Linked DNA regions of Homo sapiens: regions 1, 3, 4, 5, 6 and 7 are each reported to be linked to region 2. Evidence: microRNA targets listed by miRTarBase, many of them from high-throughput screens and not tested one by one. Region 2 holds a microRNA gene; each other region holds the end of a gene's coding sequence.
The links. Region 2 holds the annotated microRNA hsa-miR-147a (GUGUGUGGAAAUGCUUCUGC, at 1,882-1,901, shown strand). A microRNA usually pairs through its seed, bases 2 to 8, with sites in the 3' UTR of a target mRNA and lowers its output. Matches are read on the target gene's strand: a 7mer-m8 pairs with bases 2 to 8, a 7mer-A1 pairs with bases 2 to 7 and ends in A, and an 8mer does both.

Region 1: the mRNA of ACVR1C is a reported target of hsa-miR-147a. The part of its 3' UTR that is shown has no 7-base or 8-base seed match.
Region 3: miRTarBase lists CHST11 as a target of hsa-miR-147a. The part of its 3' UTR that is shown has no 7-base or 8-base seed match.
Region 4: the mRNA of C15orf61 is a reported target of hsa-miR-147a. Seed matches in the 3' UTR shown: 8mer at 3,417-3,424 and 7mer-m8 at 926-932.
Region 5: miRTarBase lists VAMP4 as a target of hsa-miR-147a. Seed matches in the 3' UTR shown: 7mer-A1 at 2,198-2,204.
Region 6: the mRNA of DCAKD is a reported target of hsa-miR-147a. Seed matches in the 3' UTR shown: 7mer-m8 at 3,662-3,668.
Region 7: the mRNA of ELFN1 is a reported target of hsa-miR-147a. Seed matches in the 3' UTR shown: 7mer-m8 at 493-499.

Annotation. Positions count from the first base shown.
Region 1 is chr2:157,530,579-157,534,658 of GRCh38, reverse strand. ACVR1C (activin A receptor type 1C) reads left to right here. Exons shown (of 9, transcript NM_145259.3): 9 at 616-4,080. The coding sequence ends at 741. Among named protein-coding and RNA genes, the nearest start is that of CYTIP, 89 kb to the right of the region's middle.
Region 2 is chr9:120,242,806-120,246,885 of GRCh38, reverse strand. MIR147A (microRNA 147a) reads left to right here and starts at 1,836; the gene lies at 1,836-1,907.
Region 3 is chr12:104,757,328-104,761,407 of GRCh38, reverse strand. It overlaps CHST11 (carbohydrate sulfotransferase 11), which reads right to left. Exons shown (of 3, transcript NM_018413.6): 3 at 1-4,080. The coding sequence ends at 3,605. Among named protein-coding and RNA genes, the nearest start is that of MIR3922, 170 kb to the right of the region's middle.
Region 4 is chr15:67,526,307-67,530,306 of GRCh38, reverse strand. It overlaps C15orf61 (chromosome 15 open reading frame 61), which reads right to left. Exons shown (of 2, transcript NM_001143936.2): 2 at 161-3,889. The coding sequence ends at 3,762. Among named protein-coding and RNA genes, the nearest start is that of IQCH-AS1, 6.5 kb to the right of the region's middle.
Region 5 is chr1:171,701,222-171,705,301 of GRCh38, forward strand. It overlaps VAMP4 (vesicle associated membrane protein 4), which reads right to left. Exons shown (of 8, transcript NM_003762.5): 8 at 1-3,313. The coding sequence ends at 3,285. Among named protein-coding and RNA genes, the nearest start is that of VAMP4, 39 kb to the right of the region's middle.
Region 6 is chr17:45,020,673-45,024,746 of GRCh38, forward strand. DCAKD (dephospho-CoA kinase domain containing) reads right to left here. Exons shown (of 5, transcript NM_001288655.2): 5 at 2,672-4,052. The coding sequence ends at 3,761. Among named protein-coding and RNA genes, the nearest start is that of DCAKD, 29 kb to the right of the region's middle. RefSeq lists a silencer at 1,360-1,709.
Region 7 is chr7:1,746,810-1,750,889 of GRCh38, forward strand. It overlaps ELFN1 (extracellular leucine rich repeat and fibronectin type III domain containing 1), which reads left to right. Exons shown (of 4, transcript NM_001128636.4): 4 at 1-1,137. The coding sequence ends at 274. Among named protein-coding and RNA genes, the nearest start is that of ELFN1-AS1, 6.5 kb to the left of the region's middle.

The DNA of each region.
Region 1 (4,080 bases), not on the chromosome of region 2:
AGGATTTTTGATATTTATACTTGGATCATAATTTTTATTGTAGTATAATTTACATTTGGTAAAACTCACAAATCTTAGTATACAGATTGATGAATTTTTTTTCGTACGTTTACACTTGTGTACTCATCACCAACATCAAGATACAGGGAATTTCCAAGCCTTCCCATATCCCTTGATGTTTTTCATGTCCCATATTCCCAGAAATCAGTGGATTGAAACATTTTTTAGTTAGTCTCTACAAGGTTAGTATTTGAGTTTTGGTAGAATTTTTGAAGGGGTTTGACCCTAATCTTCTTATATTGTTTTAAATTTACTGTTTCTTCATCAAAACTTAGTTAGCATCAATGGCAGGTACAGCGGTGCATGCCTGTGTCCCAGCTACTTGGAAGATTAAGCAGGAATATCGGTTGAGCACAAGAGTTTGAGGCTGTAGTGTGTTATGCTTGCACCTGTGAATAGCCATTGTACTCCAGCCTGGGGAACATAGCAAGACCCCATCTCTTAAAAAAAAAAAAAAAGCTTAGCATCAATTCCTGGATTTATGGCTTTACTTCTTTTGTGCTCTGTTTTATGTAGAGTAGCTAAAGTCTTTGATTTTTTTTTTCTCTCTTAAAGGCACTCCGAGTCATGGGGAGAATAATGCGTGAGTGTTGGTATGCCAACGGAGCGGCCCGCCTAACTGCTCTTCGTATTAAGAAGACTATATCTCAACTTTGTGTCAAAGAAGACTGCAAAGCCTAATGATGATAATTATGTTAAAAAGAAATCTCTCATAGCTTTCTTTTCCATTTTCCCCTTTATGTGAATGTTTTTGCCATTTTTTTTTTGTTCTACCTCAAAGATAAGACAGTACAGTATTTAAGTGCCCATAAGGCAGCATGAAAAGATAACTCTAAAGTTAAGCATGGGCAGGAGTTGACTTCATCCAATCTCTATGTTATGTTTAATTTTATTTTGAAAGCAACACCTCAACTCATCTTTTTATTTAATAAGGAAGAAATATATTACAAAAGTATAAAATAAGCTCTATAAAAATGTTATAGTCATTAAGTTTTTATTTTACTTGAACCAAGAGCACATGAATGAACAGGAAAAGATGTAAAAACATTTTTTTCTGAGATGAAAACATATTAATTAAACATGCAAATTAGAGCATGCTATCTTTAGGTGATGCAATCTATGTTTCCCCCTTTTTAAGTTAGCAGGACTTTTTAAAAATAAATATTGCTCTAAACTTTAATATATCGAACGTGAGAGTGGAGCTGCTTAGTGGAAGATGTAAGTGAGGTGGGTGTCCCATGTGCTTGGTCTCCCCTTCTGCTGTTCTCCTGTTCTTCATAATCCACTACTGCAGCAGTCCCTGAACCACTAAACTTGTTCCTTTCATTTACAAAAGAGATACCTGACATCCTGAGACACTGAGAAATGTCCTGAAGTCACACAGCTAATGGCAGAACTGGCACTAGGTCCAAATCTTGTGATAATGAACACCGTAAGGTTAGCTAGCTTCCTACTTTCCCTTGAATAGTGCTTTTCTCCCTATGTAATATCTTTTATTATGATATTTGTGGTTTAGAAGGCATATTGAGTTATTTTGCAGAATCATAATGGACCCGCACAAAATCTCAGAACCATATCTGTTGACATTTTTTCTCATAGAAATATCATGGTTACCCCATTTGTTAATGAGCATTAATGTTTTCTGAACACTTCCAAAGATTAATCAAACATAAATATTCATTGTCTGAAAATGTCTTTAAGATACAATTCAGAGGTCCCTATTTCCTTTGTACATACACACTTAGAAAGAAAAGACAGAAAAGGAAGAGGAAGGAAGGAAATATTTTGAGAATATATTGAGAAGAATTAAGAAAACTCTTCAATGAAGTGTTAACAACCAAACCCTACAGACGGTATCAGAAACAGCAAATAGATATTCCTCTACCCTTTCACAGTGAGTGAGTGAGTACAGAAGAATGCTCATGATAGTTTTGCCTTCATTCTACTTTCTGTGGACACAGAGTAATGAATATTTAATGGGACATTAAATATGCCCTTCAAATCTATAATTTTACTTTGGTAAACGAGATTTAACATGATGTCTTTTATGCTCCTAAAACATCTTTTTTCAAACTCCATTCCTTAGAACATTCTTCTACTGAGATGATCCAAGACCAAAAGTGTTCTTTGGTACTTGCTTATAAAGTGATAGTACATGTTAGCATATAATGTATTTTGAAGAGTGAAGTAAATGCTATTGATAACAGTAAAAAAAAAAAAAAAAACTAATAACAGTAAAGAAATGCTACTTGATTTTTTTTTAAACTGGATTGCTCAGATTACCTGATCGTGGTGGAACCCTTTTATTAAGAGGAGGGGAAACTTTTTACTATCCCATATTTAACTGTTCTATAAAGCAAAGCACAGCTTGGGTAATAGCGTTCTGAAGGATATACTTCTGTATTTTCTCATAGAGTACAATTTAGTGATTATGCTTCATTTCACTATGGAAATATGTTACTGAATCTATCTTCATTTTACTGAGTTGAAATAAGGAAGGCAAAAAACTGACAGCTATGGAGTTTGCGTGTACTTCCATACTCGTTAATGCTCTCATCCACTTATTAAATAATCATAGAGCACCCATATCTTGCTTGCCACAATATCGGGTACAAGAGGGAATACAAAGATAGATAGGTCCTGCCCTCAGGGATTTTAAAGTCTAATTTGGGAATGGGAATAGGGATGTGAGTGTGTGGGGGAAGAGATTAAATTGACAGATAAAATACGAAGTGGGATGTCTTGAGTTCTGCATGACAGTGGGTTTCTAGGATAGGTCTGAAAATTGCTTTCATTTGCAACACATTTAGAAAGTAGCTTTATTTGGATATTACAGACAATCTAAATATATCATCAGTTTTTAAAAGTGCCTATGTGAAGTGATTTTTAAAAAGAGCCTATGTGAAGGGGTAATCTTGCTTGTTCTTGTTACTAATTTCTCATAGATTGTTTTTCTGCATATATAAGAACGAAATTATTTATTTACTATGGTTGTACGTGCCTCAAATAAACAAGAATGATATTTCCTGTTTTATTTACTTATGTTGGGTAAATATGCTTATTGAATTTTTAAGAGAGGATTTTTTACCATCTCCATTTTTCTTGTCATTATGTTTTGTAGCTTATTTGAGGGTGTCTAAATATAATTTCATATTTTATTGGTTCAACTTTCACTCTGAAGAAATCCGTATGTTAGTACATTTTGAGGTATTTTTCTTGTTCTTGTGTTGTTTAACTATGACTCCTAACTGAGTAGTCTTATATTTCAATTACAAAATACATTTTTTAAGAAAGGGAATAGAGCAGCAAAAATGATAAGGAAAATGTTAAAAGTTGTAATATTTCCTTTACTCTTAACAGGATTATATATAGAACATGCTCACTTACAAAAATAGGATGATGAAGTTTAGAGCATAAGGCAGGCTTCTTGTATATACTTATGCTGTCAAATGTTATATTGTTTTTAATGGAGTCCCATTGTGTAATATTTATTTCTTTTACATTTTGTTATAAGCAAAAAAAAAAAAAATTCTCCTTAGGTTATGTTCAGAGTATCAGTGTTCTTTACTCCTTACAGATATTTTGGCTTTGGGGTATAATACAAGACTTGGGAAAACACTATTATGAATTTTCAGTACTGTATAAAGTGGTGATGGGATTTAAATGCAGCATCACTTTCTGAAAATAAGAGAAACATTATTTGTTGTCAGTATTTCAGCATGAACTTGTTGCCTTGTAAATTTTGCCTTTAAGTTTGTAATTGGTACAGATTCTGTTGTATGCTTTCTTCTATGTCTAAAATATTTGGCATGTCACATCTAGAATTCTTAATTTATGTTCTGACTTGAGAGTTAAGTGAAACATGACTGTCGTGCACTATTTTAGGCATAGCACTTGCTTTTCATCTTTATACTTTCAATTAACTTTGCATTTTAAATTTCCATGATTGTATGAAAATAGTAACCTGGTTGCAGTATCTGAAAAAATTAAAATTAGCTTTTATTTAAAAATGAAAATCTA
Region 2 (4,080 bases):
GGTCAACTCCTGACTAATCTTGATTTATCTACACTCTTATTTCCAGAATGTTTCAAAATGTTATATGTTGATTGATCCATAATAGCCATTCTGACTGGTGTGGGATGGTATCTCACTGAGGTTTTGATTTGCATTTCTGTAATGATGATTAATACTGAGTGTGTTTTTATATGTATTTTGGCCACATGTATGTCTTCTTTTGAAAAGTATCTGCTTATGTCCTTTGCCCACTTTTTCATGGGGTTGTCTGTTTTTTTGCTTGTACATTTGTTTAAGTTCCTTGTAGATTCTGGATATTAGATCTTTGTCAGATGTATAGTTTGCAAATGCTCATCAATGGTAGACTGGATAAAGAAAATGTGGTACATATACACCATGGAATACTATGCAGCCATTAAAAAGAATGACATCATGTCCTTTGCAGGAACATAGATGGAGATGGAGGCCATTATTCTCAGCAAACTAACACAGGAACAGAAAACCAGATACTACATGTTTGCCCTTATAAGTGGGAGCTAAATGATGAGAACAGATGAACCAAAAGGGAGAACAACACACACTGGGGCCTACTTGAGGGAGGAAGATAGGAGAGGGAGCTTCTGAAAAAACAAAAACAAAAACAAAAACAAACAAACAAACAAAAACAAACCTGTTGGGTACTATGCTTAATACCCAGGTGACAAAATAATCTGTATGCCAAATCCCCAAGTCATGAGTTTACCTGTATAACAAACTGGCACATGTGCCCCTGAACCTAAAATAAAAGTTAAAATATTTTAAAAAATACAAAAAAGAAGGAACTTATTTCACTAGTGGTTCTTGTAAACTTTGTAGTGGCTGGAGCCACATCTTTCACTGTCCATTCCTTTTTTAAAAAATACATTTAAAGTTTAAAAAAAATTATGGCAAAATACACATAACATAAAACTTACCATCTTAATCATTTTTAAGTGTGCAGTTCAGTGTCTTTAAGTACATTCACATTGTGCAACCATTACCACCATCCATCTCCAGAATGCTTTTCATTTTCCCGAACTGAAACTGTACACGTTAAACAATCACTCCACATTCCTCCCTCTCCCTACCCACTGGCAACTAGCATCTTACTTTCTGTTTCTATGAGTTTGACTACCTTAGGTACCTTATATAAGTGGAAACATTTAGTGTTTGCCATATTATAACATGCCTATTTCACCTAACATAATGCCCTTAAGATTCCTCTTGCATTGTAACATGCATCACAATTTCCTTCGTTTTCCAAACAATATCCCATTGAAGGTATAAACCCTATTTTGCTTATCTGCTCATCCATTGATGGACACTGGGCACTTGGGTTGCTTCTACCTCTTGGTTATTGTGAATAATGCTGTTATGTACGTGGATTTACATGTCCAGGTCTGTGCTTTCAATTCTTTTGGGCATATACCTAGAAGTGCAATTGCTGGATCATATTTTAATTCTATGTTTAATTTTTTGAGGAATGGCTGTACTGTTTTCCATAGTGGCTGCACCATTTTCTATTCCCATCAAAAGTGGGCAAGGGTTCTGATTCACTATTTTTTTCTGTGTGTGTGTGTGTGTGTGTGTTTTAATAGTAGCCATCCTAATAGTTATGAGGTGGTTGCTGTTCATTCTGTTAGAAAAAGTGATGTAACCATTGATTGGAAAAACAAAAACAAACCCTGCATCTTGAGAGACTGTGGATTCCAATGAGCCTCAGAAGCTCCTGAGAATCAACCGATAACAGCAGCCCACCAAAAAGCAGCAGAAAACCCCAAAGGGCAGCCAAATGAAATGTCTTCACTCCTTTCCTTCCAAAGAGCAAACACTCCCTGAATCTAAAGACAACATTTCTGCACACACACCAGACTATGGAAGCCAGTGTGTGGAAATGCTTCTGCTAGATTCTGAAGGTCTCCTTCCATTTTTGGCCTCTGGAAGAGGAGTTCTATTTTGCCTTCTCAGTGGCATAGTAACAACCACATAATTCAAAAATAAGTTTTCCTGTGCATTTCCTTGTTGAATCTTGCACATTGAGTTTTTTTTTATATTCATGCATTCTTTCATGATGCTTAAATGTTTTCTTCGAAATATCTACTGTATTGATTTGTAAATTAGATAGTCTTCTGTAATAAAATACTACTTTTGCAAAAAAAAAATCTGTTTATATAGTATAGTGGCTGTTGGGAGGGAACTGGAGGGGCAATGTGGGAGGGAGAGAGCCCTTTTGGGAAGGTGCTGCAATGAGCTGAGGGAAGAGATGTGGCCTGGCTAGGGTGGTGGCAGTGAGGACTCATGGGGAGGGAGGTCAACAGACATTTCAGAGACAATCTGCAGGACGTAATGCACAGTCACTGGTCAGGCCTGAGGCTGAGGAGGCAAGAATGCCTCCCATTTTTCTGGCTTCATGGAGAGAGAGGTGGAGAGTCAGGGAATAGAACAGAGGTGATAGTGTTGACTTCCATTTAGCCCTTCAGGGCCCTGCAGGCCACCTGAACTTTCAGTCATGTTCAGTAAGACAAGAGCTTGGGTTTGGGGGAGTGAGGGGGAAAGGAAAGTTGGGGGATGGATTGTAATGGGTCTTGGAGGTGGGCTTTGGTGTGTGAGCTTGACTCTGGAGGATGGACAGCCAGAAGGTGCATGGTGAGGTGCAGGGTGAGAAAACAGCTCTGCACTGGGCCAGGCCACTGGAGGTGGACATGAACATGGAATCCTAGGTCTGAAGGGGCCTTCATCCAGTCATTCCATGGTGCCGATGGGGAAGGCGAATGACTGCCCAAGGTCTTTCAAAGGATTGGTGGGAGAGCAGGGACTGGAATCCAGGTATCCGTGACCTCTGCATCCCTCAGCCCTTCCTGACATCCTCAGGGCACTCCCATCCTGTCATCCTCCCACCCTACTTCTGAGCACACCCATTGTGGGCTGAGGCCCCGTGCCTGCTTTAGACTCAGAGTGCCCTGAGTTCGAGTCCTGTTTCCACTCACAAGCTGGAAGGCTTGGGGTGGTGACCTTTGCTCTGAACTTCACTCTCCTTAACTTCCCTTTCCTCATTGATCACATGGGGACGCTGATGCTTCTATCCCAAGGTGGCCTGGTTTAATGACATAAGGCATGTTAGAGGGCTGGCAGATTGCTTGGCACCTGTGAACACTCAGTAAACAGTGTTGAAGTTGGGTCATTTCAGAGTCAGCCCAGACATCACCTCCTCCAGGAAGGCTTCTTTGGTCTTCTCCCCCTTAATCACACAAGGTCAGGTAAGATCACCTTCCTCTATGCCCCCAAAGCACTGAATTGGGCCATCCTCTCTGTCTGTCTGTCTGAGAACAGGGGCTGGTATTTAACAGTATAGTTTAGTTCTGGCATCTTAGAGATCTGAGTTCAAATACTATCTCTGCCACTTCTTATTTGTGGCATATGAGACGAGTCTCTTAATACCTCTGAGCCTCAGTTTCCTCATCTACAAAAGAGAAATGGTACCAGTGATAGCTATCTTTTAAGGTCTTTGTGAGAATTAAATGATAATACATAAACACAGTCCTTAGAATGATGCTTGACACATAGTAAGGGCTCAATGAACGTTAGCTATTTATGCATTATTATTCATCATCACTGCCATTTTTACTTGGAGGCCTATTGGACTGGGAGTTAGAAGACCTGGATTCTGTTCTCAGCTTTTTATTCTGCTGATCTTTAGTAAAATTTTAGATGTATCTGGGACTCTTTTAGATAGGTGGTTAGATAATCAACAAATGAAATTTTTAGTAAAGAGAAGACCTAGCTACCCCTTGTCTCTGTTTTTCACTGCGGCAGGCACACCCTGGGTGATGCATATGTGTTTGTGGAGTGCCTATGTTGGGAGTAGACTCTAAGGCGGACTTTGTCTTCCTTCCCATGACCACACAGGCCTCTTTCCTGGGGCTCAAACTCATGGTGGCACCTGCTCCAAACGGGCTGGGTTCCCATCTCCCTGCTTCCCTTGGGCCCTCCTACGGAGGCCCTGTGTGTTTGCAGACACAGCTGAGGCCCTTGGCCTGGGGTGCACACCCAACTCATTAGGCCTTGTTCTCTGCACACACGAGT
Region 3 (4,080 bases), not on the chromosome of region 2:
TCTCAGCACTGATCCAGACCCCACCAGCCAAGCATTTGTGGGACCCGCACACTTTGCTCTGGAGCTTTCTAGTAGCCTGGATTAATCGACCCCTGTGCTTCATGCCTTTGCCACCAGGAGAACCAGTGCAACTGAAGTTTCCACTGCCTGCTGCTCTCCTGTGGCATCCACATCCTGAATAGGCAGGAGGGTGCAGCCCACCTGGTGCACAGGGAGGAGGAGGAACGTCCCCTCTGAGATACCACAGGTCAGCAGACCACCTCTTCCCAGACCAGCTGGGGAGGGCAGGGAGGCGGGGTCTGGAGGAGCTGCGGGAATCATCTAGAGCTTTCCAACCAAAGGGATAAAGTAAGCAGGAATGTCCTTGCAAATACTGCCCTGGCTGTACCTGGTCTTTAAAACACAGCAGCACCTTTGAGAAGTGGCTGGGAGATGGGACGCCTGCCTGTACTTTTCTCCAGCTAAGCATGCATAGAAAGCAGTTTCAAATATTCCTCTTTAAAAAACACAAACTTTCATTTTCCAGGCACACTTCACAAGTGGATTTCTTTAACCAAGGACACAGAATACTTTCTACATTCTGCAAAAACAGTTGAATCCATTTTTTTTAAAGTTTCAATGCCATTAGAAAAGAAAATGTGAACACAAAGCAAAACACGGGGAGAAAGAGTCCCTCATTCCAGAAACCTATTGATGTCATGTCCCCTGAAGGACAATCTTTCTCACTTAAGAGAGAGAAGCCAGATGAAAGGCCATCTTCACATGACAGTGAGCAGGCTTGCACAACTGACCAAAGACGGACACAGAAATGCAAAGCAACGTGAATTTCCATTGAAAACCCCCCAAAAAGCACACAGTGAACGATTCCAAACTATGAAACTGAAGAAGCACTCATCAAGAGATCATCTGTTCCCACTGAGCATCCTTTTGAGCCTGAGGAGTAGGGAGCCACCCTGGGCCCTATACCCCACTCACCCTCTCCTCTCTTCCTTCTGTCCACACCACCCAAGACTTCCTCCACTCCCTCTGGGAGGGATAGAATTGTAGTCCGTGGCAGTATCCAGGATTAGAACCATTGCTTCATTAAATAAAGTACCTCTGTTGCTATAAACCAGATGGAGACTGTGGTGCTATTTTGTATTTTTTTTTTAATGGAAGGGTGTTGGGGTGGCAGTTTTTATCCTTGAAGACCTCAGATATGCTAAGTCAACCTAAGCAAAGTATACTCGGTGGAACCCTAGCTCTGTGGGGTGATCTGCAAAATAGAGTATCCTGGTCATGTAAGTTCAGGAAATGCTACAGACTCAAGGATTATTTTTGGGGATTCACCATGCACAGCACACATTGAAGGCTGAAAAGTCCTTGCAGAAAGGAAACTGACTTAACTTTGTTTCTTAAGGATATTTGACCACAAAACCCTTAGTCTGCATCACACCAACCTGATGCCTCCTGGAACCTGTGTTCTGTAGAATGCGTATTAGAAAATGTTGGACAACCTGTTTCATTATCAGAAGTCCCATTTCTGAGGACAGTGTTCTCTGCCTGGAAATAAGGTCCAGATTCTCAATTCCAGGGACAGCCAAGGTCTGTCACTCTACCCAGTAAAACACATTGCGTAAATCTCCATCCATCAAGGGTATAGTTGCTGCGCCCTTCACAAAGGGGAGAGAGCTCGGAAGAAGGTACACAACGTTTTATAAATAGCTTCAGCTACCTTCTCCGGCCCACATCTCACTCACGTTAAATAAAATAATTTCCCCGGTGAGATGTTGCAGCTGCTGCCCACTGAGCTTGCTGTGAGCTTTACAATACAATCTTAATAGTTTCTGTGAATAAATTATTCAATTTTTGTTTGTTTAGAATATCCTCACCCCTTCACTATATACGGCATCAAAAACAAAACAAAAGGCAAAACTTACCCACACCCCATCCCACCCTCCCCTATTATTAAAACTATTATTATTATTATATACAGTAGCTGCTACCAACTCATTCACTAGCTGTAAGAGGGATGTGGCTCAAACTTCAACTGAGAAGCATCAGCAATGGCTGGAAATGAGAAGCATGTTTAGATGTTAATTAGCAAGGAACAGGAAATGAAAAGTTTCCAGGCTTCCAGAGGAAATGGGGCATGGATTATGGAAGGCTGTCCTTGCTGCTCATGCATGGCAGTTACCAAGATGCTGATAGTCTTTCAGCCTCTGGAGGACGTGAGAGGGTGTGCATGTGTGTATGTGTACAAATAGTCCACCTCTGACCTTCATGAGGGGTAAAAACCATTGCAAATCCCCAAGTGTACGAGTCTCACCTTGGCATTTCACACTTGTACGTGGCAAGCAGTAGAAGACAACACTTCTACATGGGGATGTGGTGCTAGGCTGAATGGAGATGACAGTAGGAGGCACTTGAGGAGTGTTCCCCTTTCCTCACCCAAGGCAGACATTGCTAATCAACCACAGCACTCTTCCACACTGTGCCTGGAGAATCCATTCTGGGGCTTAAAGGCAGACATTACCCATCAGTTGGAGCAGGCACATGATAGGACACATTTTTTTAGCATCTTTTCTGTTGGTCAGTGAGCTTGGGATCACTCACGAATATAAAGTGGCCTGCTCCGAATGTGAGGTTTTCAAATATGGGCCATAGAAAAATGTAAATTTGTAGGGGTCATGGACCTTCTGCTGTTGCTCATGAATAGTCCAAACCTCATGTCAAGTCCATGAATAATATCAGGGGTTTGCTAATTGTCGAGCTGGATGCTCTATGTCACATAAAGCTTTTTGAGGGCCAAGACTATTGGGTTTGTTCAACGCTCTATCTTCAGGGCCTAGTATATAGTAGATGCTCAATAAATATTTGTCGAATATAAAGCAATAGCCACTTCACCTTCACTGCAACTGGCACCGCCAGTTTAAAATTCCTGTTAAAAAAGCCTATTCTATCAGATTGCTAATTCTGGTGAAAAATTGTTACAACCAACTTTCTCCTTGGGTTAAAAAAAAATCACATTTCTTTAGTGCAAGGGACTTTCAGGTCGATTGGAATTGGTTTGGAATGAGTCCCTTGCAAAGATGACTCTAAGTGCAATAGCAACCTACTTATTTCTAGCAGAAATTCAAGAATGGTGGCATCCATACACATGACAATGGCTGTTATCACATGACTCCATGAGAGGTTAGTAAGGAGAACATTCATGCCCCCAAATGAGCTGTAGCAAGCAAAGCAGGAATCATAGATTTCTTCTGGAAAGATGTTAGAATTTTGCTGCCACAAAAAGAAATAATGAGACCATGTTTAAATAACTATAAATAATATTAATTAGAATTTATGGAATGCACAATTCATGGAATTCACCAGAACACAAGAAACCTTTGAGACAGTGTTGCAGTATTCACTTCTACAGACAAGGACGACCCATCCTATTTCCCCTGCAAAGACAGCTGTCCTTCCCTACGAAGGATTTTAAATAATTCTCACTATGCTGCTCGCAGCATCATCCCCAAAGAAATATTAATTTACAAAATAACCCAATATCCATATAATTCTTTTGACAAATAAAAATCTTAAATTAAAAAGCATGATTCTCTCCCTCTCCCCACCCCCTTTATTCCAATTTCAGGTAGCTTGGCACTGAGTAATTGAACATTAAAAAATCGAGTTTGTAGACTTCGTACAGCTGCGTTTGGTGCTCTGAGCTGATGTTCTGGAAGAATTCTGTGGTCATTTCATCAGTAGTTCTCGTAGACTTTGCATAGGTGGGGAACTTCAGGTAGCTGCCCACTCCTGCCAGCTGCAGGACGTAATTAGAATCCTCTTCCAGTGTCTCGTACTTGCCCACGAGGTCATAGTGGATGTGGCAGGGATGGCAGAGTGAGTAGACGGTTTGCCAGTGTTCGTTGAAAGGCTCCTCCCGCTGGGTGTGTGGGTCGATGAGATAGGCCACAAACTCCTCGAATTTGACATCGTCCCCTTTGCGCAGGGCCTCCTGGGTGGCGTTCTTCCGCTGGCGTTTGATGATCTTGGTGCCGTACCGCTTGTGGAAGGAGATGTTGTACTTCTGGGTGAACTTGTTGCGGTAGG
Region 4 (4,000 bases), not on the chromosome of region 2:
TTTTTCATTACTAACATAAGATTTAATACGTAGTTAAAGATTCTGACTTGGCACTAGTCATTAGCATGTAATTGAACTAGTAAAAAAGATCAGTTAAAGCTGTGTTGATTACCACCTTATCTTTGAAAGGCGATTAAAGACCTCAATCATTGCAACAAGATTTGATCGTGCAGCCTTTATTGGACATTGATCTTTCAGCAAAGTGCAGTTACATTTTCCATTAATTTACAGTAACAGAGTTTAACTCTGATACTCTAGACTGTTGACCCAGGTGAGATGTAATGCTAAGTACTTGTTTAGGTTAAGATGCCCCCAAATGTCATTATTGTTTGAGTAACAGTAGATACTTAATCCACTAGCTTTAGGATAAGGTTTCTGTTATCTGCATTAGCTTTTCAGTGCAGTGAAACCAAGATCTTTGCCTTTTATGTCATCCCACTTATTCAAACATCATTCTTTAACAGAGTTAAAAGATATTTCATGAAGAACTATAGATGTTCTATGCTTACAGTTTTGGGTGAATATAAATGACATGAAGTAAAATGTACTTTAAAAGATACACGGTTTTAATAATTACAAATGTTTCAGCTAGGCCTGGTGGCTCATGCCTGTAATCCCAGCACTTTGGGAGGCCGAGGCCGGCAGATCACCTGAGATCAGGAGTTCAAGACCAGCCTGACCAACATGGTGAAACCGTCTGTACAGAAAATACAAAATTAGCCGGCGTGGTGGTGCATACCTGTAATCCCAGCTACTCAGGAGGCTGAGACAGGAGAATCGCTTGGACCTGGGAGGTGGAGGTTGCAGTGAGCCAAGGTCGCACCATTGCACTCCAGCCTAGACAACAAGACTGAAACTCCTTCTCAAAAAGAAAAGTTTGAATTTTTACGGAAGTCAACGTTAGAAAAATATTAATGCCCCAAAATGTGTGGTAAACTATAACTGTTTCTACAATTTGGCATTTTAGGACATCAACACTAAGAAAATAGAGATTTTTGTATTAGCAGCCTCTCTCACGCTCCCAAATAGGTTACTGCATCTTTATAGTGGCTCACAACTTACACAGGAACTAAGAATTTTGCCTAGGAATTTGCCTAGAAATTTATTCCAATACGTGATAATTCATTTGTATAGAAATAACAATAGAAGAGATGCAAGGTTTTGTACTAAAAGTACACCTTTATTAAAACAGTTTTGGTTGGATTAAAGATAAAAATCCTGTCAAAGAAATATGACAGAAAAGCTAATCAGTGGTTTCACCAATTAAGAAAACTACTGATATGCAGAAGAGAAGGGCCTCTTCAGCTCCCCACATGCCACTTCAGGGTTAGTGGGCATGTGCTATCAATGCATCTCTCCTTCTTTCTCCATCACCTTATTTTTGAAATTTTTTAATTAATGAAGTCCTTTAAGTATAATGGAGCAGAAGAATGTGGATTATAAAAACAGAGCTTTTGCAGAGACAAAAGTAAAATTGATGTACATTTTCGGGTAGAAATGTCTCTTGTTTCGTTCTTCTCAGATTACAGGTGGAAAAACCAAGACACAAAGGAGGAGAGTTATTAGCCTGAGGTCAAAAAGTAAGACAGCACCAATACTAAAAATAGACTCAGTCTCCTGACTTACACATTTATACTTTCTCCCTTTCAGGCCATAATACTTTGGTGTAATATGCAGCTTTAAAGAAAAAACTTAAACCATTGCTGTTCAATGGGAAGTATTGTTTTCAGACTACAAGTTTACAAGACTTAATAAATCCAATGAATGATATTTAAATTTTTAAACCACGCCTTTACCCATTGTTGAGTTAGTTCATCCTTCACCATGATCAACTCCGTAAGAGCAAGAGGTCTATTGATTTTCATGTAATACAAGAAAATATTACATTTACTTGTTATACAGTGAGCACATCAGACAAGAAATCAAGGCCCTGTTTAATGCTGCAAGCAGCAGAGAATTACAGAGATCAATAGGGTAGTTTGTCAAAGATGTTCTCCAAGGACACTTACCTATCACATATGGGCAAGAAGTCACACTGACTATAGCTATTGAAAAACAGGTAAGCAGAGTCAGCAGTACAAATTATCAGAAATCAAACAGGCCAGTGTGAAAAGAGGTGCAACTCTACTGAAAAGCTGTATTTATAGTCTGGTAATTAAAGACCATTTTATCAGCCTTGTGTTGGGACCAAACCTTTACAGCCACTATTGACAAGACCAGCAGCAATGAATGAGCAGTATTTGACTTAAAACTTATGAGCTATAGTTATTTAACTTTGCCCATTACAGAGGAAATCAGTTCTAGCCTTCCCTGCAAAATGCTAATAGCCAGTTGTTTTATTATTAATGAAGCTTAATGTAACACTATCTCCTTTGTGTAAGCCATTCATTTAACTAGTGTCAAGTATATTCTTCTGGACTAAATATATTGGCATAAGTACTTCTTTGATTAAAGTGTTACTTAGAATTGCTTTTAGACAAGTGAACACCACATATATTTGAAGAACAGTTCACTCTGTAGATCATTTAAAATGACTACCTTTAACGAAGCTAGTTTGTATTACTTCATTATTCTGGTGCCTTCACCTCAGTCACTTCCACTCACTTTCTCTACTGACTTGACATAAGCATCCAAATGTTGAATTTTATAAAATGTTTTGCTACAAAAATGTGTAAGTGTTGCAGAGTATCAGCAACACATTAACATAAAATGATATATAATGTATGTTTGTAATTATGGGAGAGATCATAAATCTTAAACACCCATTGGTTTAGAAATTAAATAGTTCTACTTAGTTCTCCCTAAATTACTCCAAATGTCTGAAATTTACCATTCATCTGGGTATTTTGTGACTACCCCAAGGATACATTTTTTTAAATGACTTGGCTTTCAAAAATGCAATTAAGTTAATAAAATTCAAATGCAAAAGTGCCATTAGGTCTTTAAAATTTCAGCCCACTCCTTATTGCCAATAAGTCTATGGATATGTACCATTTCAGTTAATTGCTTTTATAAACAGTTACCAAATTTATTTTTCTGCATCTTTCTAGAAGATCTTAATTGTTCTTACAGCTTTATAGGAAAGCTGTTTTAACTTTTAATAAGTCTGAGTTTCATTCACCTTGCTACACTTATATTAACCAGTTATTATTACATTTTACAAACGATATGGTTTTGGACTCTTTAAGCAACAAGAAGTTTCAACATTACACTCCAACCCCTCCTCCAGGTAAATGGCACAAGGCCTTTAAAACGTTTCTATTTACAATCCTGGCAGCTGAATGGTTTAGACTTGAGATTACAATTAGATTCTCATCAATTTTGGATTTGCCAATGATGTAATATTTCCATCATACATCCTAATGTCTTCTACTTCTTTTTCCATTGTTACATAAAAGATTTTCCCCCCTTCTCTTTTGTGTGGGCATCTATATTTTCTCTTCAGAGTTGATTTAAATTGTTAATTAACTATAGAATCTATTACATTGTAATCATTTTTTATCTGTAGGTTAACCTAGTTCTAGGGAAAAAATGGTGTGAAGCTTCATGTGTTTGTAGTTCACATCAGCTAAACAGAGTATGTAATATATAACGATGTATAAAAAGCTTCACCTCTTGAGGGCAATGATTCATCTTAAAGAAGCAGATACTGTAGAAAGAAAAAAGTATTTGCAAAAGTTTTATTTTAAAGGATCAAAAATAAATACTGCACATATACACAGAGAAAATCCACTGATATTTATGTTCTTTGACGCACACTTTCAATACATGGCACCTTCATCTTCTTTATTGAGAAAATAAACTGTTATGGGTCCATAACTGGTATGCACAGTCTCTGTGACTCTGGCAAATAACCAGGAGCCAAGTCCATATAATAAAGTTGGAATACCTAGAAAACAAACGAATATGTATAAACATCAATGCTTATTAATCATGCAAGTTACTGATCACGTATAACACTCTTCAGCAATGTTAACAAATTACAATGTGATAAAATATA
Region 5 (4,080 bases), not on the chromosome of region 2:
TGGAGTCCAATCACATTTCCATGTGAAAACACAAAATTAGGTTAACAGAACAGTCATCCTTGACATAGTAATACTCTGACAATACAATTAAGGGGACATCTTCTAATGGCATTTGTTCTTAACATGGAAAAACAATTTCTTGCATATTTTCTAATCATAGTGTATATACAGATGTAAATACAGAGTCAATGTGTGCAATGATGCTGACAAGGCATCAAGCATGTTTTAGAGTATACCGGCAATGAGAGATTTCAATTACTTTATATTCCTGCCTTCTCAGTCTGTACACATATTATCATTTACAGGATAGTCACATACTATACAGAATTGAAAGATGCCAATTTTTGCTATCAAAAGTGCTGAAGTTATAATTTCCTAATACAGACTATTGAAATGCACAGAAAGACTACAATAGGCAATCTATAGCAGGGCTAACAAAGTATTTCTATATCTCATGTCTATTAATTACCCTTCCTCCATCTTATATAATATTCCATCTTCAGTAATGAACTTTTATCTAATTAAGAAATCCCCCAGTTTATAAAATCTGAGGGCAATTTCCAGTGAACTTTGTCAGGATAGAGGAACCAAATGACCACAGGTATTACTGAGTTATAATAAGAAGGAGTAACCAATTAATCAGTATTATAACAACAAAATTGCTGCAAGGCAATAGGCTTCTGTAATTAAACATAAATCACAAAGGTATGGATTCAGGCATCAAAATAGTGACGTGATTTCACTGAGTATCAACTAGTATTTGCAAAGCTACTTGAATTTTTCTGTTGATCTTCACTTGTTGTTAAATAATGATAGTTTTGATGGTGGTAAAACTTCATTTTTCAAGTGCAGGATGATCTGAGCTGAATGAGAAAAAAAGTAATTAAGGGAGGGAATAAAGGTAGGCCTGGCATCAGTTTGAACAATATATTTTTTTCTTCTGTTTTTGATCGTAAGAGGGCTTATATCTCCAAGGTTACCACAATAAAGTCATAACCATGCCAGCCATTTTAAGGATTTCAGGATTAATCAAGACCAAGAAAGATGAAATGATGAATTACAAACCAAGCCATCACTACTACAAAGTTCCATGAGTGATAATTCTGTTACCCATATCCCAGGCAGCAATATGTTTAAATTACAAAGACAGTGACATATATATTGTCAAAAAATTTTACTGTTACTTATTATTTAAATTTAAAAATTTTATAATTTTACATTTTGTAATTATTTATTTAAAAGTGGCATATTTTATTAAAAGGAACACTGGAAATATGGATACTTTTTGAGAAGTAATCTTCATCTTCACTTGTAGATATTATGGAGAAACCAGATTTCTACATCAACTAATGGAAAATTAACCACTTATGAGCCTAGTTCCAATTCAAATAAAGGACATACATACAAATGTTAGGACTGATTCTGTCCATTCAGTTAAAATATTTCCATTCCTGAATTATTAGCTACTGAAATTCTAAAAATGCTCATTTTTCTGGGTATCTTAACTTAAAAGATTTATTAGCTGTTCAGATGCTGTTTATATTAATTGACATTTACAAAGAGCATAGAGACCAAAGACAATATACACTATAGTATGTAAGACCTTTATCTCCTTCTAAATGCTCTAAGCAAACTATAAAATTTAGTAATTCTATTTAGATCTTCTTAGATAACTTGCAGGTGTCTTGAGTGTCTCAGTCTGCTTTCTCTCTTCAAATTTTTTCCATTCTAAACAGCATTTTTTGCCTCCTAGTAATAATCCTGTAGAATTTTAAAAACAGACAAAAAAACACCAAACCCAGATTCTATGCTTTATTCATTTTGCATTAAGATGACCAAAGAAATAAAACCTAAATAAAATAAACATAAAATCATTTTTCCCTATTTAAATACTGATAATTTCTATTAACCCTATTTTTAATTTAGGGAGTTTTATATTCATATTGTCAAGATATCCAGTGCACAAGTTTCTGCAGAATCACTAATTTTATTATAAAGCTTCCTCTCCCCACACCTTAGGGGACAATGTATTTTCACTCTGACTTGTTTAAAAGACACAAGGAGGTTGGCATATTTTAAAGTTAACACATTTTTTCATTATAAAAACAGGCTTAGGTTAATGGTCACTCTCTAGCATTTGGTTACCGACTGACTGATTATCATATGTGTGCGTGTGTGTGTGTGTGTGTGTGTGTGTTTGTGTGTATATATATATATATATATATATATATATATATATATATATATACACATAGGTTCCTGACTTTCTACTACTCATTACTGTTGGCTGATGCAAAATTTGATTGTGCAACATACATCTCCTCAAGGATGAACAGGAAATGCAAAGATATAAAATTCAAAGTATTAATAGATGGTTTTGCTACTTTTTGTACTTTTGGTAAATGAGATAGTTGGAAGTTAGAGGCTATTAACTAAAATAAAATTAAGGAGTAAGTAAGTTACCTGTAAATTTCATTTACTCACATTAGGACTGACTGGTCTCTCTTTATTGGAGTTTAACAGAAAACAGACTGGACCATGACTGGCAGCTATATATTGGTCATTTTCAAATACTCCAATGACACTCTTCAATAACTTTATTATCTCCAGTTTTATGATGCCATACCATGTTTTTTCACACTGTTTAAAAATTTCCATTTCCATAATCCAATGCCAAAAAAATTACTACACATTCTCTTACACAGTCAAAAATATATTTACTGGAATGTTTTTAGTTATACCTGAGGGCAACAACATTTACAACATTTAGCTTTTGTTACACCTATAAATGTGGAAATTGCTTGCAAAACAACTGTAATATGAAAGGAACTATATTTCTGCAAATATTGACAGAATGGTTATGCATCTCTTTCAGCATATAATTTGGTACTCTACACAGGCTTCCTGACCCCCAGCATGACCCGCTCCCTAATGCAATAATGCAAGTCCTTATGCCATTAAAATATTAATATGAAATATTATAATCAGTGTTTATATACACAAATAATGAACTGGCAAGTATCTAGTTTCAAATTAGATCCTTGAAATATGGAAAAATAGAGGCTAGTTCTCTTTGCCTTAAACATAATTATTAAAAGAACATTTTGTTAGAAAGGGAGAAGATAATTGGACATTCTCAACGTTCCAATTTGAAGTGATACTTGCCTCTTAGTTTCTTGAAAAAGAAGTTTTGAAAGTTATATACACATAGGTTTCATTTAAATTATGCAGCAATCTTTTATTACTGTCCCAGATCTTGTTTAATGAAGATCTCTGTCATCAAATCAAGTACGGTATTTCATGACTATAAGAACTGTAAGAGAAAACATGAAAAAAGCAATATATCAACATCAGATATATATGCTATGTTTGAAGCAATATTCCTAAATGTAGTTGTGTCTACTTTTAGAAATGGGTAATGAGGATTGACTGAACTTTTATCTGAGGTAATAAATAATCAATGGGAAAGGAGAAGCAAAAAATATCATAAAACAACCTAAATGTCTAACATTGGCATCTTAAATAAATAATGGCATAGCCATAGCTTGTATCTGCTGTTAAAATATTACTAAAAATTTTGATAACCTGGGATAATAGTCACAATATATTTATTAGAAAGTACATATAATATAGTCTTAGTTTTTTAAAAAACATGCTTGTATATTAATAGGAAAAGAGAAGTATATATAATAGTTATATTAGTAGCTATCTCTACTAATTGTAAGATTATAGTTGAATTTTTCTTCTTTTTGTTATTAATATTTCACATTTTCCAATTGCTCACTATATATACATGATTGATTCTTGGTTTCTGAGGTAATTATTTTCTATAAGGTCACTACAAACACTAAATTAGTGAATATGGAACCACTGCTTCTAGGGAAAATATAGGGTTAAGTTCCTGTGAGTCTCTGGCTACTACATTTTTGTCAATCAATGCATAACCTTGGTTTATATGTGTTTCTGTTTAAAGACACTTTATTTAATATGTATTATTGATTCAGTAACACTGTGCTCAAGGCCAACAGCACTATAATTCATGCCTGAACAAAAGTTTGCCTAATGTGTATTTTTTCCATG
Region 6 (4,074 bases), not on the chromosome of region 2:
CGGACCCTCAACCACACTCAACTCCCAGCTCTGTCTCTCTTAGTGGCTTGGGGCACCAATCTCCCCATCACACAGAAGTTGGATCCAGAGCTCCGCATGAGGCTGAGGATGAGCCTAGGGCTGGCCTGCCCCTAGGAGCCTCCCCCACCCCCCACCCCTCAGGGGTGGGGGGCTGCAGCACTCCCAGCCTTCTGCCTGAAGCCCGTTCCCAGCCTGTAAGCTGGGCGCCTGCTCCCTTGAATTCCCTCCCTCCCTCTCCCTTCCTGAGCGCTGAGCTGTGGAGCAGAATGATTTCCTGTAATTGGCCAGCAATCCGGCCGCCCGACTTGTTCTATCGACATGCTGGTTAGCTGGAAATTGTATTGGAATCTAAGTGACTGGGAGCGGAGGGGAAGGTGGGGAGCAAAGAGAGGCGGTTTGGGTCCCAGCTGGGTGCAGCCTCAGCTCTGCAGGTGGGATGAGGAACCACCAGCCACGTCTCTCCTGGAAGGAGCAGGAAAGCAACCTATAGCACCACATCACCTCCTTCCTTTTGCTCCTTCTCTCCCACCATGTCCGGGGGTCTCCCTGCCCACTCCTATATGACCCCATGGCCTGAAGTCATCACTGCCATCGCATTCCCCCTCCTGCTCTGAGACTGTTTCCTTCTGACCTAAAGTGCCTTGGTGAGAACTAGGGGCGCTCAGCAGCGCGCCTATCCTGCTCCCATTCAATTTCTAGCCATGGAGGCTCATCATGGAAGGTCCTAAACCTTTCCCTGCCTCTGCCCTGCCCCCCATGAGGAGAGAGAGAGAATGAACATTTGAAGAAGAGTTGTCAATTACTAAAGAGCCAAAGTGTATAATGGGGGCAGTGCAGATAGCCGGAGGAGCACTGTACTGGGAGTCAAGAAGCTTGGTGGTTATACCTGTTGGCTACTTAGGCCCCTTGGCTCAACCTCTGAGCCTCTGTAAAATTCTGGACCTGTCTGCCTCACACAGCTGGGAGATTTCAAGGGGATAACTGGAACGTGCTTTGTAAACTGTGAAACTGCGAATGACCTTCGGGCCAGTCGGGCCTGGGGGTGGGGGTGTTTTAGAGGCCTGCCTGCGCCCTTCGTCCCCCGCCCAGAAGGCGTGTGCGTCTTCACCCTCGCTGGTGTCTTATTGCTCCGCTCCGGGTGCTAAGGCCCAAAGTGAGGGAACGGAACGCGGAGGCTGCAGGGTCCCGTCGCCGTCGCGGTGGGTGGGCAGGGGACACGCCCTTTGGCACCCAGGGCCCGCAGCCCAGGCTCAGAGGACGTGGGCGAACAACGCACCTTTTGAGTTAGCGCTCAGGGTCAGGCAGAGCCTCCGCGCCCACCTGGCCCGTGCTCCCGCGGCAGCTGCTCGGCAGGAGTCTGAGGCCGCCCGCGGCCTGGGAGGAGGAAGATTAGGCCGCTCGGCGAGCGCCCGCCGCGGAGGCCCGGCCCAGCCCGGGAGGGTGCTGCCACCTGCCGGCCGAACGGCAGGCCGCCGGCTCGGGCGCGGGCCTGGGTCCCGGAGGCCCGACCTCTGCAGTTGCTGAGCGGCCTCAACTTCAAGTCCCCTTCGGAGAAAGTAGTCCTTCTTTTAAGGCCGCCTTGGACCCCCAAGGCCGGGAAGGGGATCCTGGGGCAGGGAGGCAAGAGGAGCTGGAGAGGGAGCTCTGGCGAGGCCCGGGCAGGGCAGGGCTGAATTCGAGGTTTCTCCACACCTGCCATGCTCTGACATTCCTGCTTCAAACCCAGCTCACTGGGTCAGGGAAGGTTAATTCTCTGGAACTTTACAGTTTGCTAAGGGTTTTCAGTGTCCTCCACTATGAAGCCTAACGATGTATGAGTAGAAACTAAAGGCAGGAGGTCACATGGCAAGCGGAGCCGGAATGCGAGCCCAAGGCCCAACCCCAGGCTCCAGCTCCTCCTGACAAGAGGCTCAGGGCACAGGAGAGAGTTCAGAAGCCTGGCTCTGCAACCTGGACCAAATCCATCTTTCTGAGCCTGGGATGGAAATAATCAGTGTTATGTTAACTATAGGGTCTTACACATCCAGCAGTGCCTGGCATGCTGCCGATACTAGGAAGTGCCATTTCCTCAATTATTGGGGTGATAGGGCACTGTGGGGGTCCATACCTTCCCTCTCCTTTCTCCGTCCTGGCGGATCGCACCAAACCGAGGAAGTGGCAGGCTCCTGCCACCCTCATCCTGCCTGGCCACCCACCTGGCAGCCCACCACTGCCTTACCCGGCCCTTCTTTGCCCCTTAGGGGTTTGCAGCAAGTTAATGAGCTAGACTCAGCACAAGCGGCTCTGGGAAAGGGGGCACTAAGTATGGCCACCACAGCATTTGCATCCGTCACACTCATTTCTAGCCTTAATAGGCTTCTGGCTGCAGGATCAACACATCAGCAAGTCTGCAGGCCCTGGCAGGGAAGGCTTATGTCTGCGCTGGTCTAATTGGGTTGGGGAAGGCAGATGGGGAGGCGGGGCAAGAAGGTGTGACGCTGCCTCAGCCCTCTACCCACCTCCCACAAAGGTGCCTCGGGCCTGGCTGCAGTCCTCCTGGGACCCAGGGAGAAGCCTGATGGCAAGTGCACCTTCTGGGGCCCTCACCTCCCCCTGAGCTCCGGGAGGACTCCAGCCCAGTGTGGGAAGAAGCCAAGTCTGGGAATCTTGGTTGGTCTGGGGCATTTCAGATCAACACACTTTATTAAACACCAACAGCGGGCCAGGCTCTGCACTAAGAACACAGAGATGAATAAGACACTGTCCCTGTCCCTAGAGGGCTTACAGTCTAGTAGGAAAAACCAGGCAAGTTTCGGCTAATTACTGTACTGTTGGATTAAGGTAAAATGTTGAGGGGGAGTTGGTATCCTAGACCACCTAACCCAGCCTGGGGCTTTAGACAGTGCCTGAACTGAGAGCTAGTTGTAGGTTAAAAAAAAAAAAAAAAAAAAAAAGGAAGAAGAAATAAAAGAAAATAAAAGGTATCCCAGGCCAGGAGCAGCAGGTTGAAGGCACAGAGGCAAGAAACAGCAAGGATGGTGTACACGGAATACCAAGAGGTCCAGGCGAGAAGCAGGGGTGGCAGGCAATAAGCAGGATGTGGGAGCACTACACAAACCCTACGTGGGGAGAGGGGTCTCCCAGAAGAGGCTGGTCCTGCCTGGCTACAGCGTTACCCACGAGAGAATCCTTGCTGCTTGCTGGCAGCAAGCCATACTGGGGGGCCTGGGCCTTCAGTATAAAAAATATCTCAACCTAGGGGAGGGCCTTGTTGACTGTTTGAACATGGAAACCCTTGGTCCAACATGATTTCCCGTGGTCCACTGAGGAGGTTTAGGCCACAATGGGGTAGGTGCTTAGAGAGGATTCAAGCCCAGTGAACCCTTGGCCTCCCAGCTCTGAGGAGGGCCACAGAGCCAGTATTCCCTACCCCCACCCACAGAAATGTATAGCAGTCTCTGACTGTTGCTTTCACACACCATCACGGTTGCTGTTCTGTAGGTGCTGCTCAGGGAAGGTGGGAAGGACAGCAGGCTATTTCTTGATCTCAAATAGGATACACTCCAAAGACGGGATGGCCTGGCACAGAGGCCCAGCCCTGATTCGGAGAGTCCGTGTGTGTGTGTGTGTGTGTGTGTGTGTGTGTGTGTGTGTGTGTGTGTGTGTGGGGAGGGGGCTGAGAGGAAACAGGATGTGTTACCTGGCTTCAGCCTCCAAGGAGATAGATGGAGGCCTGGGGCTCCCTGCCTTGAGTGCCCCACTAGGCGTAAGGCAGAAGGTAGTGGGTGAGCAGGTAGAGGAGGCTGGCAATGGCAGCGAGCCCTGTGAGGACCCCAAACCTCAGCGGCAGGTACTCCAGGGAGCGCTCCAGCTCAGTGTGCAAGAGGATGACCTGGCGTTTGGTGACACTCCACTCGCCCGAGTTGTCTAGGACATGGCGGGCCATGCGGGCCTTGTCTGTCAGGGGCAGCTGGGCATTGATGCGGGCCTCTGCGTCCTTGCGGTTCAGGCTGTTCCGCCGCATCAGCCGTGCCAGCTGTGTGTCCCGGTCGCTAAGGATAGGGCAAAAGGGCA
Region 7 (4,080 bases), not on the chromosome of region 2:
GCCACTCACCCGGCCGCGGCCCCGCGACCTCGCCTACTCGCAGCTGTCCCCGCAGTACCACAGCCTGAGCTACTCCTCCAGCCCCGAGTACACCTGCCGGGCCTCCCAGAGCATCTGGGAGCGCTTCAGACTGAGCCGCCGGCGGCACAAGGAGGAAGAGGAGTTCATGGCCGCGGGCCATGCCCTGCGCAAGAAGGTTCAGTTCGCCAAAGACGAGGATCTGCACGACATCCTGGACTACTGGAAGGGCGTGTCGGCCCAGCACAAGTCCTGAGCCCCCCAAGACCGGCGATGCCCACTGGACCAAAAAGGATGCAGGATCCACCCAGAGACTCAGCACCAAACCCAACACACGCACGCCACCACAGCAACTGTGACAGCGGGGGGCCCTGCAGAGGCGAGGGGGGAGCGAGTGGGGACAGACAAGGGGGACACGTCCCGAGCTCCTGTGGCCGGTCCTGGGATGCGCTTGTCGCCCCGGGTGGCACGTGTCCACACACACACACACACACACACACACACACACGAGGGACTTCGGAAAACTGTGTCTTAGGGATGGGGGGTGGGGGTGGGGATTTTTTTTTCATTATCTTTCCTCTTTTGAGTCTTCTCTGCCTTTTCTTTTCCTCTCTATCTCTTTACTTTCTTCCTTTTTTAAAAAAATATAATAAAAGACAAGTTATTTTAAAAAGACATAAAATGCCATCCGTGGGGGGTGTGGCCGGCGTGGCCACCTCGGGGCCCCTCACGTGATCTCCTCGGTCCGTGGTTTTCTGTGGATTCTCTGTCCAGTCCGTCTCTTCATTGCCGCCTCCGGAGTCCACTGCAGAGGGGCAGAGTGAATGCCGGCGGCCAAGTGGCCTCCGGGACAGGTCCTGGAGCCCTGCTGGACTCAGGGTGGGTGGAGGCTGTGCCTGTGGACGGCCGGGGTGGCCAGGACGGCCAAGGGCTGGGAGGCACGTCCCCCAGCCCAGCCCCCATGTACACTGTAGTCGTTCTATTGTACAGAAAAAAATATTTCTATATTTGCAATGTTTGCTGTAAAATGAGAAAGAAAAAAAGACTATGTCTACTAAAAAAAAAAAAAAAAAGACTATGTCTACTTAAAAAAAAATCTGCAAAGGAAAACAAATCAAATGCTTGTTTGTCCTGGGTTTTTACTGTGGGTTTCAGGGAAAGAGTTGAGGTTTCTTTTATGTCCCGTTTAGGGGGTGGTTTTACTGATTTTGGCCTTGGGGTGGGGACACGCTGTGCTCTCTTGGCTAGAGCGTGGTGTGACCAGGGGGGTGCACGTGGGAACCCTTGGGAGGTGGGCGGCCCGCACTGGGCTGGAGCGTGTCTGAGAGCCGGTGTGGACAGGGTAGGCGGGAGCCAAGCTCAGGTGGCGGCGGGAGGACGGGCGGGAGCAGGGTCTTGGTGTGGTGGATCCACGGTGCGGGGCTGCTTCTGTGTGTGTCTGGCTGTGCGTGCCAGCGGGGTGTGTGCAGAACCCAGCAGCCGAGGGGGTGTGAGTGGGCCTGGGACGCCCAGAGGCTCTTGAGTGAGGTTCCGGGTGAGCCGATGGTGTGGGTTTGCATGTGATTGAGCGTGAGCGTGAGGTGGTTGGAGGGTGTGTCTGTGTGAGGGCGGGTTCCCCTGCTGTCGCCAGAGCCCCACCTACAGGAAGTGCCCAGAGACCCCTAATTCTTCGGGGGTCTCTCAGGACGCTGAGCCCGGAGCCAGACCCTGCACTGCAGCCCCCTCCATATGCATCTCACCCACCACCCCTCCAGGCAGCACGCCCTGGTGTGGGCCCCCGTTCTGAGTGAATAAGAGGCTGGAGTCCATGTGGGACGAGCACCAGGTTGTTTAGCATCCCCAGGGGAGGATGGAGAGAGTCCCTGGCTTCCTGCTGCCCAGAGCACAGGGTGCCCCTCATCCCACCTACAGGAGCCAGAGGGAGACGCTGAGGACGAGACTGGACTCCCAGGCCCTCGAATCCACCTGCCAGCTGAGTGGGGGTTTTGTACCCACCCCAGGGAAACAGCCCCCAGCCCTGCATCCCACGCAGAGCTGCCTTTCTGCTCAGGGGGAGGGCCCTGTGAGGAAGGGGAACACCTCACCCTGGGCCCGGACACCTGCCTGATGCCGGGACTGCTGAGTCAAAGCTCCCTGTCACCCCTCTCTTCCTGTCTGGATGGCCCCTCCCCTGTCCTTCCTAAAGTCCCGGCTGCTGAGCCCCCACCCCACCCCTCCATTGATGGCAGACCCACCCCCACTCTGAACTCTGGCACAGACCCAGGGAGGGAGGAGGCTGCGGCTGGAGCCGGGTCCCAGAGGCAACAGGAACCCGGGAGACTCCAGGGCAGGAACCGGAGGGATGAAGCCGGTTTTCAGGCTCTGACGGGTCCCCCAAGAAAGGACCCAGTCTCAGTCTGACCCAGTGGGGGACAAGGAGGGAGGGAGGAAGGGCCAGTGCAGGTAGGAGCAGGGGCAGCCTCTGCTTGCACGCCCTGGGTGACGGGAAGCTCACCCCTCTCTTCTGTAGCTGTCTCCAGCTTTCGGGACCTCCCTTACAGCAGAAGCCCAGGGGGCTGTCCCCCAGGGGCCACAGAACTGAGGGCCCATCTGTCCCCTCCAGGTTAGCCAGCCCGATCCTGCCACCTGCACCCCGGTCACCCCACCAGGGACCTGAGAGTGTGAGGCCTGCTCCGGGGGTGCACGCCCGGGTGGGCTCCACGGGCACCCTGTGACTCAGCCCTCCAAAGGGGGCCATTTCTGAGGACGCTGCATCACCAGCTCTTCGCCGTTTGACCCAAGGTTTCTGGCCAGCCCGGGACTCTCAGCCCTGGGCAGCTCCCTGTCCTCCATGAGGGGTCCCGGGAGGGCATGAGAGACCGCTGGAGACCACAACGCCAGGCCCAGGGGAGAGGAGCGGGGACCAGGAGCGGGTTCCAGGGCTGACGGGTGGAGGCCCAGAGAGGGCCCCAACCTGCCCAAGGTCACATAGCAACTCGATGACAGTCTGGTCATGGGACAGAGAGGTGGCCAGGCCTTCTCAGCCCGCTGCTCCCTTTCACTGAGGAGCGAAGATGGGCTATTTATAGGAAATGCGGGAGAAGGGCAGACACAGAAGAGAGGCGCCTGCCTTGGGAACACCGGGCAGCTGGCCAGGAGTCAACGGCCCACAGAGGAACAAGGGAAAATGGCAGGCAGCGAGGTGCGGGGTCCTCAACAGCCAGGACACCCCGCCCGGGAGCTCAGCCCTCCTGGAAGCCGCGGGGCTTGGCCCCGAGTGTCTGCAAACGCCCAGCCAGTCCTGGGAAAAAGAGGCCCGAGTTCCCGTGCCCTTGCTTGAAGGTGTCATGGTGGGGGTGACAGGACATAAGCAGGAGGAGACACACACTTAGGAAGCGGCTACTGTGTGCAGGGCTCTGTGCCAAGCTCTGTGTGGGCGCAGGGAGGAGCCCAGCCCGGCCCCGGCCCCCCGGGGAGCTCACAGGCTGGCAGAGAACTCAGTGCAGAGGTGGGTGACCCGGCTCAGGGCAGCAGGGGAGGCGCTGGAGGTCTGGGAAGGATGGGAACTCCTGACTGGGAAGAGCCGGGAAGGCTTCCTGGAAGGGGTGGTATTTGGTTTGGGCGAGGAAGGAGGTGGAGGTTGCCAAGGTGAGAGGGGTTGGTGCCCTGTGGGCTCAGAGCTGGGCTCAGGAGCAGGAGAAAAACCTGCCAGACCCAGCCTTGCCCTGCAGCTGGGATGGGTGCCCAGCTTCCGAGGGGCAGCCCTGGAGGGCAGGTCTTGCTCGTTTGTGAGACCAGGGCTAAGCCACAGCGAGGCCTCAGGCCCAGGCCGTACCCCTACGACCGTGTGACCATAGCAAGCCACTGGCCCTCTCTGCCTCAGTCTCCTCGTTTGTCCAGTGGGGGGGATGCCGATGCCTGTCCCTCCTGCAGTGCACTGGTTATCCATTGCCGTGATCATGCTGCCTAACCCACAACCACAGTGCGGTATGGCCCCTCGGGGGGCGGCTGGCAAGAGGGCACACTCTCATGTCACGGGGCACAGGGAGGACCGGGTTCTTCCCCACAGTCTCCCATCCTCCA